2 linked regions of the Homo sapiens genome follow. The protein of the gene in region 1 purifies or fractionates together with the protein of each later gene. This does not show direct contact. Each region holds a gene or a part of one and is shown in the gene's direction. Other genes may lie near its edges. The genes, in order: BTBD8 and NUMBL.

What was found.
Region 2: the proteins of BTBD8 (region 1) and NUMBL purify together in Homo sapiens (affinity purification with mass spectrometry; 2 studies listed by BioGRID and IntAct, with this or other methods). This does not show direct contact.

What each region holds. Positions count from the first base shown.
Region 1 is NC_000001.11:92,181,293-92,185,471, forward strand, and holds the end of BTBD8 (BTB/POZ domain-containing protein 8), read left to right. Parts: coding exon 1-1,303; intron 1,304-2,571; coding exon 2,572-3,038; 3' UTR 3,039-3,431; downstream 3,432-4,179. UniProt on the Homo sapiens protein: Involved in clathrin-mediated endocytosis at the synapse. Plays a role in neuronal development and in synaptic vesicle recycling in mature neurons, a process required for normal synaptic transmission.
Region 2 is NC_000019.10:40,666,652-40,673,951, reverse strand, and holds part of NUMBL (numb-like protein), read left to right. Parts: intron 1-302; coding exon 303-608; intron 609-3,931; coding exon 3,932-4,054; intron 4,055-5,813; coding exon 5,814-6,484; 3' UTR 6,485-7,300. UniProt on the Homo sapiens protein: Plays a role in the process of neurogenesis. Required throughout embryonic neurogenesis to maintain neural progenitor cells, also called radial glial cells (RGCs), by allowing their daughter cells to choose progenitor over neuronal cell fate.

The sequences.
Region 1 (4,179 bases):
GGACAGCTATCAGAAAAAAATTCTCCTAAAAATATGGAAACATCAGAATCTCCAGAGAGCCATGAAACTCCAGAAACTCCATTTGTGGGTCACTGGAATTTGAGTACTGGTGTTCTGCATCAGCGAGAGAGTCCTGAATCTGACACTGGCAGTGCTACCACCTCCTCCGATGACATAAAGCCCAGATCTGAAGACTATGATGCTGGAGGGTCTCAGGATGATGATGGGTCAAATGACAGAGGTATCTCTAAATGTGGCACTATGCTGTGCCATGATTTTCTTGGAAGAAGTAGCAGTGATACCAGTACTCCTGAAGAATTAAAAATTTATGATAGTAATTTAAGAATTGAAGTAAAAATGAAAAAGCAAAGTAATAATGATCTTTTCCAAGTTAATTCAACGAGTGATGATGAAATCCCTAGGAAAAGGCCAGAAATTTGGTCTCGATCTGCAATAGTTCACTCTAGGGAAAGAGAAAATATTCCACGAGGCAGTGTCCAGTTTGCTCAGGAAATAGATCAGGTATCTTCTTCAGCAGATGAAACAGAAGATGAAAGATCTGAAGCTGAAAACGTTGCAGAAAATTTCTCTATATCTAACCCAGCTCCTCAGCAGTTTCAGGGAATAATTAATTTAGCTTTTGAAGATGCAACTGAAAATGAATGTCGTGAATTTTCTGCAACTAAAAAGTTTAAAAGGTCAGTTTTACTTTCAGTCGATGAATGTGAAGAGCTGGGATCAGATGAAGGAGAAGTCCATACTCCCTTTCAGGCTTCTGTAGATTCTTTTTCACCTTCTGATGTTTTTGATGGCATTTCTCATGAACATCATGGAAGGACCTGCTATTCCAGATTCTCACGAGAAAGTGAAGATAATATTTTAGAATGTAAACAAAATAAAGGCAATAGTGTATGTAAAAATGAAAGCACTGTCTTGGATCTTAGTAGCATTGACTCTTCAAGAAAAAATAAACAGAGTGTTTCAGCCACAGAAAAAAAGAACACAATAGACGTCCTATCCAGTAGAAGCAGACAGCTTCTTCGAGAAGATAAAAAAGTAAACAATGGAAGCAATGTGGAAAATGACATTCAGCAACGCAGCAAATTCTTGGATAGTGATGTAAAATCTCAAGAAAGACCATGTCACTTGGATCTTCATCAAAGAGAACCCAATTCTGACATACCAAAGAACAGCTCTACAAAATCTCTAGACTCCTTTCGGAGTCAAGTTCTGCCTCAGGAAGGTCCAGTGAAAGAGAGCCATTCTACAACTACTGAAAAAGCTAATATTGCTTTATCTGCAGGTAATGTACAGAAATAGAAATGCTAAATGCATAAGAAAATAAGTTTATAAAATTTTAAAGTTGTATGAAGCCCTGAATGTTATATTTTAGTCAGATAGAATAATTACTTAAGCAACAGATTAAAATTTTAAATGAAAAATGTCTTAATATGAAAATTACTCATTCTTTATTGTTCACTTAAAATCCTAATGAAGAAGTAATATCTAGTAAAAATTTTGATTGTTATATAGAGCTAACCTACTAAGAGATTTTAAATGAAAGAATAAAAAGAAAAACTTAGTTTGCTGCTATTTAGTTATTTATGTATAATTTAACACAAGAATTCTTGACTATTAGAAATTTTATTATACATTGGATATGATTTATAGACTTGATAGTATATAAGAGGCCTGTGCAATAACTCTAGTAATATGTAACTAAAAGCACTGAACTATTTTAACAACTAGATTGATTATTACAATTTATATACATTTTACAGAGATTAAAATTTTCAGGATCTGTCTATTCTAAAGTTTTCAAATAAAAAGATAAATTTCCTAAGAGATTATATTTAGAAGCAATGATAATATATGAAAAAAGCCCAGGCTTATTTCATATTGTTTAGATGATTTTCTGTCTAATTGTTTTGTGTTTTTTGTCTTCCTTATTATAGTAATTCAGACTAATGACCCACATTTAAAATATGCAATAGTGGCTGACTGAGTAGCTATTGTGTATTATAACTAAGAAAAATACTGATCAGTAGTTTCCTGTTCAGCAAAATCGGAAGAATAAGGAGGTCTTTAAAGTTGTACTTTTTCGTTTGTTTGTCCTTGCTTGCATCTTCCTTTGCATGTGCAATATACAAATAAGCCTTTAGGTGAAATGTATTTATCCCTGCCTTTTGCAACGGACTTACCCTAAAAGTCATCATCAAAACACTATGTCTTTTTTTTTTCTCTTTTTCTATTGTAGTGAATTAGATATATGTGCACATTCTATGTTTATGTTTAAATGATTTATGTTTTCTGTATCACAAGTTTTCAAATTAAAGTATGGAGAATTATTGTTAGTTGCCTATGTTGATTTTGCTTCTAAACATTACCCTTGAATTTTAAACACATAAAAATGCCTCAAAAATCTTGTCAATTTTGTATAGAAGTTATTTTTCCCATTCTGTGTTTTTTTTTTTTTTTGACTATCACTGTTATATTGTGTTAATATTCTACAAAACTCTGAGGGTACCAACGTGCAATTTTTACATTGTGTAGTATTATGAATTATTTCAGGAGACATAGATGATTGTGACACACTGGCACAAACCCGCATGTATGACCATCGGCCTTCAAAAACCCTGTCTCCAATATATGAGATGGATGTAATAGAAGCATTTGAGCAGAAAGTGGAATCAGAAACACATGTTACAGATATGGATTTTGAAGATGACCAACATTTTGCAAAACAAGATTGGACACTACTAAAGCAACTGCTCTCTGAACAGGATTCAAACTTAGATGTTACAAATTCCGTTCCTGAAGACTTAAGTTTAGCACAGTATCTAATCAATCAGACACTACTTTTAGCACGAGATAGCTCAAAACCTCAGGGTATAACACATATTGACACTTTGAACAGATGGAGTGAACTAACATCTCCACTTGATTCCTCAGCGAGCATCACCATGGCTAGTTTTTCCTCTGAAGATTGTTCGCCTCAAGGCGAGTGGACAATTCTGGAACTGGAAACTCAGCATTAAGTGTTAACATTTTGGAAAAATTTATGCCACTCCTTTATTTTTTGATGCCTATATTATATCCAAATGATAATTGCATTAGCCGGATATAAACTTTCTTTAATATTGAGTCTTTCCAATTTAATGAGGTAAACATAGTTTATTTATTAATATATCACATATAGAAAAATGTTTTTCTAAAGTTTTTGAGCATGTTTTCTCTAATTATTAGAGAAATTAGAAGACTTATAAGGAAACCCTAGCTTCAGTTTTCCTTTCCTAGCTGATGATTTGTTCACTTAATCATTATTCAAGAATTTAAAATGTGAATGCAGAAGTAGATCAGTCCCTTTACTTTTTGCTCTGCATAGGGTAACATAGTAATTTAACAATAAAAACTTACCGTGCTTGTGTCCATTCATGTAGAGTTTTCTGTGACTAACATTCAAACTCACATTTAGGTGATTGAGGCTGATAGCTGAGTGCTGGGGAAAATCTTAGCTTTCCCAACAATTCAGGCCCAGGAAATTCTGAAGCAAGTACATCTCAAATTTCAACCACATCATTACTAAAACAAGAGAAATGGAATTTCCTGTCTCTCTCTTTTGGGGATATATCCACAGAAGGGAATCTGCCCTTGTTCAAAAGCATAGACTTCCTTTACAGGTAGTCACTCATTCTCCATTTTCCATTCCATGTTAGGGATATGTTGGAACTGCACCTGCAATAAGCCAGCACTAAATATAAACTTGAAAATGAGTATATAAGGCAATTGAGTTACGGAGTTTAAATTGTGTGTATGTGTATGTATGTGCACACACACGTTTGCTTTCTTGGTGTGTCATTAGACACCAGTTCCTTATTTCCTGGATCAGATTGTCTTTCAGTCTGTAATTTTGGTAGTAAGTCAAAGATAAAAACCTTTGCTACAAAATGCTACCTGGTAGCGAGTACTTGGGTACTTTTGATATTGCCAATGGGATTATGAGATTTCATAAATAAGCCTCTCTCAAAGCTTTGTGACTCATAATTCTCTGAAATATGTCTGAAGCAAGGAAATAGTTTAGAACTCCTTTTCTAAATTAGTAAAGTCTTCAAAAAATAATATGATCTATAACTGTATTGAATACCAAGTCATATTAATGCACAATTATTTGTTCTAATA
Region 2 (7,300 bases), on another chromosome or scaffold:
AGGGAGATAGAGGGTCTTAGAGGGAAGAATGGTGAGAGCAGCAGGGCAAGACAGAAAGGGGCAGGAAGCTGGAGAGACACAGAGGGTGAGCCTGGGGGACGGTTTTCCAAGAGCCTCCTGGGGAAGGGGATCATGACTTGGGTGGGGGTGAGGGATATCTCAGGGCTTTGACTAGCTTGTCTTAAGGGCAGGACTCACTGGGCAAGGAAGGCAGCCTTGGAGAATGATCAAGAGAACCAGGTGGGAGAGGCCTTGCATGCCATGGTGAGATATCTAACCATCCATCTCCCCCATGTCTCCAGCAGAGGCAGCAGCTGCCCCCACTGTGGCTCCTGGCCCTGCCCAGCCTGGGCACGTGTCCCCGACACCAGCCACCACATCCCCTGGTGAGAAGGGTGAGGCAGGCACCCCTGTGGCTGCAGGCACCACTGCGGCCGCCATCCCCCGGCGCCATGCACCCCTGGAGCAGCTGGTTCGCCAGGGCTCCTTCCGTGGGTTCCCAGCACTCAGCCAGAAGAACTCGCCTTTCAAACGGCAGCTGAGCCTACGGCTGAATGAGCTGCCATCCACGCTGCAGCGCCGCACTGACTTCCAGGTGAAGGGCACAGGTGAGCCCTGGGCCCAGTGGGAAACGGCGTTGGAATCAATTGGCACTATCTGATGTGGGCAAGGGATGGAGGCGAGATGGTTCACACTGTGATTGATTTGCACTGTCTGCCATGGGCAAAGGAGAGAGAGTGGGAACATGTCATGATCGATTAGCAGTGGGCAAGGGAGAGGAAAGAGATAGCACAAATCAGGATTGATAAGCCGTGTCTGCTCTGAGTAAGGGATAGTAGAAAGGCATCACAAGTTATGATCAGTTAGCAATGTCTGGTGTGGTTAAGGAAAAGGAGAAAGATGACACACATCATGATTAGTTAGCAAAGTCGGCTATGGACAAAGAAGTCGGGCATGGATAAGGAAGTTTGCCATGGGCCAGGGAAAGAAGAGAAGCAACACCATTGGCCTGTTTTTGCTCAGGAGTAGACTGAAGCACTACAGGTTAATGCTCCCTCCCTCCAAGCATTCACCTATGAGATCTGGCTAGGTGAAGGATACAGGTATTCCTCAGGCTCTGAGGAAAGGAGGATTGTGATGGATTAGAAATGTCTGCCTAGGGCAGGGAGCATCAAGGGATGGCAAAAAAGGCATCACAAGTCATGATCAATTAGCAATGTCTGCTGTGGTTAAGGGAAACGAGAAAGATGGCACACATCATGATCGGTTAGCAGTCATGATCTCCATGCAGTGTGTGTCATGGGCAAGGGAGAAGAAAGAGTAGCAAGAGTGTTATGTTTTTACCCAAAGGGGAGACTCCCAGAATTTGGTCAGTAGAAACATGACATGCAGGGCACCAGTGAGCTCAGAGATCCCAGGGGTCAGGGGCATAGTGATGGATCAGGAACATTTGTTGTAGGCACAGAGTTGAGCAGAGGCAGTACCCATCACGAAAAGGAGCAGCACATCATAATTGATTGGCATTGTCTGCCATGGCTGGTGGTAAGAGAGAGGAGATATAAAGGTCCTGTTTTACTTGGAGGGAAGATGGAGTTACAAGGATCTGTTTCTTCTAGCACTTGGCCAGGGGAGCCATGAGGTCTGGACAGGTGACGGGTAAGGTGAGCAAAGAGCTCCGTGGGGGAAAAAAGCATTGTGTTTGATTACTAATGTCTGCCATGGGCCAGGGAAAGGAGACAGGTGGTGTACATCATGATCTAAAAGTGATGTCTAGCCAAGTGCAGTGGCTCATGCCTGTGGTCTCAGCACTTTGGGAGGCCAAGGCAGGCAGATCACTTGAGCCCAAGAGGGGCTCAAGGATCCCTTGAGGCAGATCACTTGGCTAAACCCTGTCTCTACAAAAAAATACAAAAACTAGCCTGGTGTGGTGGCGCATGCCTGTAGTCTCAGCTACTCAGGAGGCTGAGGAAGGAGAATTGCTTCAGCCCAGCTGCAGTGAGCTAAGATTGCGCCACTTCACTCCAGCCTGGGCAACAGAGTGAGAACCTGTCTCAAAAAAAAAAAAATTAAGAGCAATCTCTGCCATAGGGAAGGAAGATAGAGGTGGCACGCTACTGAGTTTTTGCCTGAGGGAGGCAGGCAGAAGGGCTGTCTTCCCCACCAGCAGCCAGTGAACCCATGTGGTCTGGCCCACTCTCTTGCTCCTGGATGCCAAATCTGCATCGCCTACCCGTTATGTCCTCGGGGATTGATGTGGGAGGGTGTTGAGCTGTATCCAGGAGGCTGGGCTGCTCCAAAAGGTAACCGGTGAGCAGATGCCAACCCTTGTTGAGAGTGACGCACGCTCCCTCCATGCCTGCAGCATTCCTGGGCCATCACACACCCTCACATTTGCTGTCCTTAACGCAGCCTGACATCAGGCACACTCCCCAGGCTGTCACACGTGCTCCTGAGAGGTGGCAGGAGCTCCAGGCTTTATTTGGAAGCCTCACACTCCTGTGGCCAGCTGCACGCTTATTTGGATGTGACTTGCCACACAGAAATTTCACATACTCACATAGACATTGCACCCCCCCACACACATGTCACACATGCTCAGAAGTCACAAACTCACAGTCAGGTATACTCTCAAGTCACACACACTCCAAAATCACAGAGTCAGAAGTCACACATGGCCAGACGTGGTGGCTCACACCTGTAATCCCAGCACTTTGGGAGGCTGAGGCAGGAGGATCACTTGAGCTCAGGAGTTTGAGACCAGCCTGGGCACCACAGCAAGATCTCATCTCCACAAAAAAATTTTAAAAATTAACCTTTATTGTTAACCAGGTGCAGTGGCATGCACCTGTAGTCCCAGCTACTCAGGAAGATTGCTTGAGCCTGGGAGGCGGAGGTTGCAGTGAACTAAGATTGTGCCACTACACTCCAGCCTGGGCAACAGAGCGAGACCCTGTGTCAAAAATAAATAAATAAATATTTTTAAAAAAGAAACACACTCAGATTTACACACCTTCACAGACCACACACCCAGATTTATGCAAACTCCAAAGCCACATGTGCAGATCCATGCACACCTGCAAACACACTCATACATCACACGGCAGATGCACTCACACCTGGGAGTCACGCATCAGGACGCCACACACCCGGACCCCAGTCACACTCTCAGAAGCTGCATTCCTGTTTGGACGAACATGCACAATCATTGTCGACATTGGCTGTCCCACCCGGGCGCCCCCGCAGCACACCTGCAGACTCCTACGGCCAGTTCTGATGTTCACTGGAGCATCTACATGGTCCCTTGGAGACAGCCATTGGCTAAAACATCACAGACATGTGTCACACACCACACATGGGAGTCCTTAATTGTTTATTTGGATGGTACCTTTGCTCATCACAAGCCCTCACGGGGCCGCCATGCCTGCTCAGTGTCTCCTGCCTTGCTGGCACAGGTGTATCTCTGCTCTCATGATGTTTGCCATAGATCAGCCTGGGTGGGGTGGACAGGACCCCACTTCTCTGCCCAAAGCTGGACAAATGATCCCCAGCCAGTGAGCGGCCATGCCACAGCCCATTCAGACTGGGCCCATGTCCTTGCCATGCACGTGGTTGGGCATATTTTTAAACTAATATATGTTGCTAAGTGTTTTAGACAACTCTTCTGGTTTGTGGCCACACACAAATCTTGAGGTCCTTGGTTTGGGGTCCCTGTTACTGTCAGCCGTCAAATGTCACACACTAACTCAGTCGTTCTGCCGCTCAGATGTGACACACACATATGCACAGTTATTTGGCGGTCATGGCCACTTAGTTACTACAGTGGGAAAGGATCCAGGTCAGAAGAGAGGGCCACCGAGGGCGGGGGGTAGAGGGCGGGGCTGCGGCAGGGTCTGGGCCTGTTTGCTGACCTCTGTCCTGCCCTGCTTCCCAGTGCCTGAGATGGAGCCTCCTGGTGCCGGCGACAGTGACAGCATCAACGCTCTGTGCACACAGATCAGTTCATCTTTTGCCAGTGCTGGAGCGCCAGCACCAGGGCCACCACCTGCCACAACAGGTAAAGCCAGGCTTTCTGCTGGGCAGACACCCTGCATGTCCCTCCTGTATCCCCTCCTCTATCCAGGGCTACCCAGACACTCCAGGGGTCTTGGGATCCTACAGGCTTAGAACCATGGATCACCTCAGAGCCAGGGGATCATCCTACAACCATGGATCATCTTAGAGCCATGGGATTACCTGAGAATCATGCGATTACTTTAGAACCATGGATCATCTTAGAGCCAGGGGATCATCCTAGATCCATGGATCATCTTAGAGCCACGGGATTACCTGAGAATCATGCAATCACCTTAAAAGCAGGGATCATCTTAGAGCCAGGGGATCAGCCTAGAACCATGGGATTATCTGAGAATCGTGTGATCATCTTAGAGCCATGGATCATCTTAGAGCCAGGGGATCATCCTAGATCCGTGGTTCATCTTAGAGCCATGGGATTACCTAAGAATCATGTGATCACCTTAGACCCAGGGATCATCTTAGAGCCAGGGGATTATCCTAGAACCATGGATCATCTTAGAGCCATGGAATTATCTGAGAATCATGTGATCACCTTAGAGCCATGGATCATCTCAGAGCCCTTGATCATTTTAGAGCCACGGGATCCCCTTAGAACCATGGGATCATCCTAGAACTATGGATCATCTTAGAGCCATAGGATCACCTTAGAAACACAGATCATCTTAGAACCAGAGGATCATCCTAGAACCAAGGATCATCTTAGAGCCGTGGGATTACCTGAGAATCAAGTGATCACTTTAGAACCATGAATTATCTTAGAGATACGGGATCATTGTAGAGCCACGGGGTCACCTCAGAGGCATGTGCTCATGCTAGAATCTTGGGATCACCTTAGAGCCCAGAGATCGTTTCAGAACCATGGAATCCTTGAGAACCATGTATCATCTTAGAGCCATGGGCTTATCCTAGAACCACAGGTGCACCTTAGAATCTCAAACACTGTAAATGTAGAACTCGAGAATCTTAGAAAGCCCAACCCTAAACTGTCAAACCTTACTATGTTAGGATACTATTATACATGTGGAGAAAGATCCATGCAATCTTAGAATCTTAACTCCTAAAACAATACATTCTGAAGGTATTAGAAAATCAAGGGTGATATTCAAAATAGTGAATACCAGCTGGGTGTGGTGGCTCATGCCTGTAATCCTAGTACTTTGGGAAGCCGAGGCAGGGGGATTACTTGAGGTAGGAGTTCGAGTCCAGCCTGGGCAACATGTTGAAACCTCGCCTCTACTAAAAATACAAAAAATCAGCCGGGCGTAATGGTGCGCGCCTGTAATCCCAGCTACTCAGGAGACTGAGGCACGAGAATTGCTTGAACCTGGGAGGCAGAGGTTGCAGTGAGCCCAGATAGGGCATCCCTGGGCAACAGAGTGAGACTCTCAAAACGAACAGACAACAAACAAAACAAAATAGTGAATCCTAGGCTTGGCACTGACCAGTCAGAAGGGTAGTGGGGCTAGGAGGATGTCAGTCCTACTTAGACTTTCTCATCATAGGGCCTTAGAAGCTCAGAATTGTATGTTCTTAGCACTCCAGAACCATTACGTGGTCCAGAATGGTGAAGTCACTCGCCTGAAGTCAGCAAGCTCGGGAGGTGCAGAGCTGGGATTCAGAGGCAGGCGGTCTGGCTCCAGAGTCCGTGCTCTGATCCCCACACCATGCCAGTTCCCAGCCTGGGGTTCTTCTGCTGAAGCCGTTGCCCCCTCCCTCACCTGTCCCTCTCCTCTCTCCAGGGACTTCTGCCTGGGGTGAGCCCTCCGTGCCCCCTGCAGCTGCCTTCCAGCCTGGGCACAAGCGGACACCTTCAGAGGCTGAGCGATGGCTGGAGGAGGTGTCACAGGTGGCCAAGGCCCAGCAGCAGCAGCAGCAGCAACAGCAACAGCAGCAGCAGCAGCAGCAGCAACAGCAGCAAGCAGCCTCAGTGGCCCCAGTGCCCACCATGCCTCCTGCCCTGCAGCCTTTCCCCGCCCCCGTGGGGCCCTTTGACGCTGCACCTGCCCAAGTGGCCGTGTTCCTGCCACCCCCACACATGCAGCCCCCTTTTGTGCCCGCCTACCCGGGCTTGGGCTACCCACCGATGCCCCGGGTGCCCGTGGTGGGCATCACACCCTCACAGATGGTGGCAAACGCCTTCTGCTCAGCCGCCCAGCTCCAGCCTCAGCCTGCCACTCTGCTTGGGAAAGCTGGGGCCTTCCCGCCCCCTGCCATACCCAGTGCCCCTGGGAGCCAGGCCCGCCCTCGCCCCAATGGGGCCCCCTGGCCCCCTGAGCCAGCGCCTGCCCCAGCTCCAGAGTTGGACCCCTTTGAGGCCCAGTGGGCGGCATTAGAAGGCAAAGCCACTGTAGAGAAACCCTCCAACCCCTTTTCTGGCGACCTGCAAAAGACATTCGAGATTGAACTGTAGCCCGAGCCGCCCCACCCACTCCATCATCTCCAGGTGCCCCACGCCTGGGGGTGGAGGCACAACCTCTCCCCTAACCCTGCTCCCTGGGGCTGCGCCCCTCAACACCCTCTCAACACCCCCCTCCCTCAACCACCCCGACAACCACTACAGAACCAACATTGTGACGCCCAGGTTGCAACAGGATGGAATTCAGGGACGGACCCAGCCTGGCTAAGGGAACCATTTCACTGCCGGACTTAGGCTGGCAATGCCCCCTTCCCCAACCCCAGACACAGGGGTTGGCCACAATCCCACTGAATGCCCTTGGTTCACACTCCATTTCCCAGTTTCTGTTGACCCCCACCTTCCAGTGTTGGACAGGATGGAGGGGGGACACTTGCTTAGGGGCTCTCCTGGGCCCCACACCAGTGCCCACCCCAAATCTGGTCGTCTCCTCCCCCCATGCACAGCACAAGCTAAGGGCTGCCCTCTGCCCACACGCTGCGTTCACTGCCAATGCTGTACTCACCTCCATCACCCTCCAACTTTGGGGCCCATGTCTTCCTTGGGCCAAGGTCTCATGGGGGCTAGGGCCAAGTTGGGGGCCCAGGAGGCGGGGAGGGAGGAGGAGGAGAAGATGCGCAGTTACCTCATGTCGGTGCCCGCTGGGGAGGGGTCCGGGAAGAAGGGGAAGGGGTGCCTGGCGGGTACTTTTCTATCTTTTATTTCCAGATTTTTTTTGTATCTAAACTTGAAGATTTGTATTATACAAGGACAGCCAATAAAGGAAGAATATAATGGTGCCCCTCGGGAAACGAGGGTGTGTGTAGGGCGCTG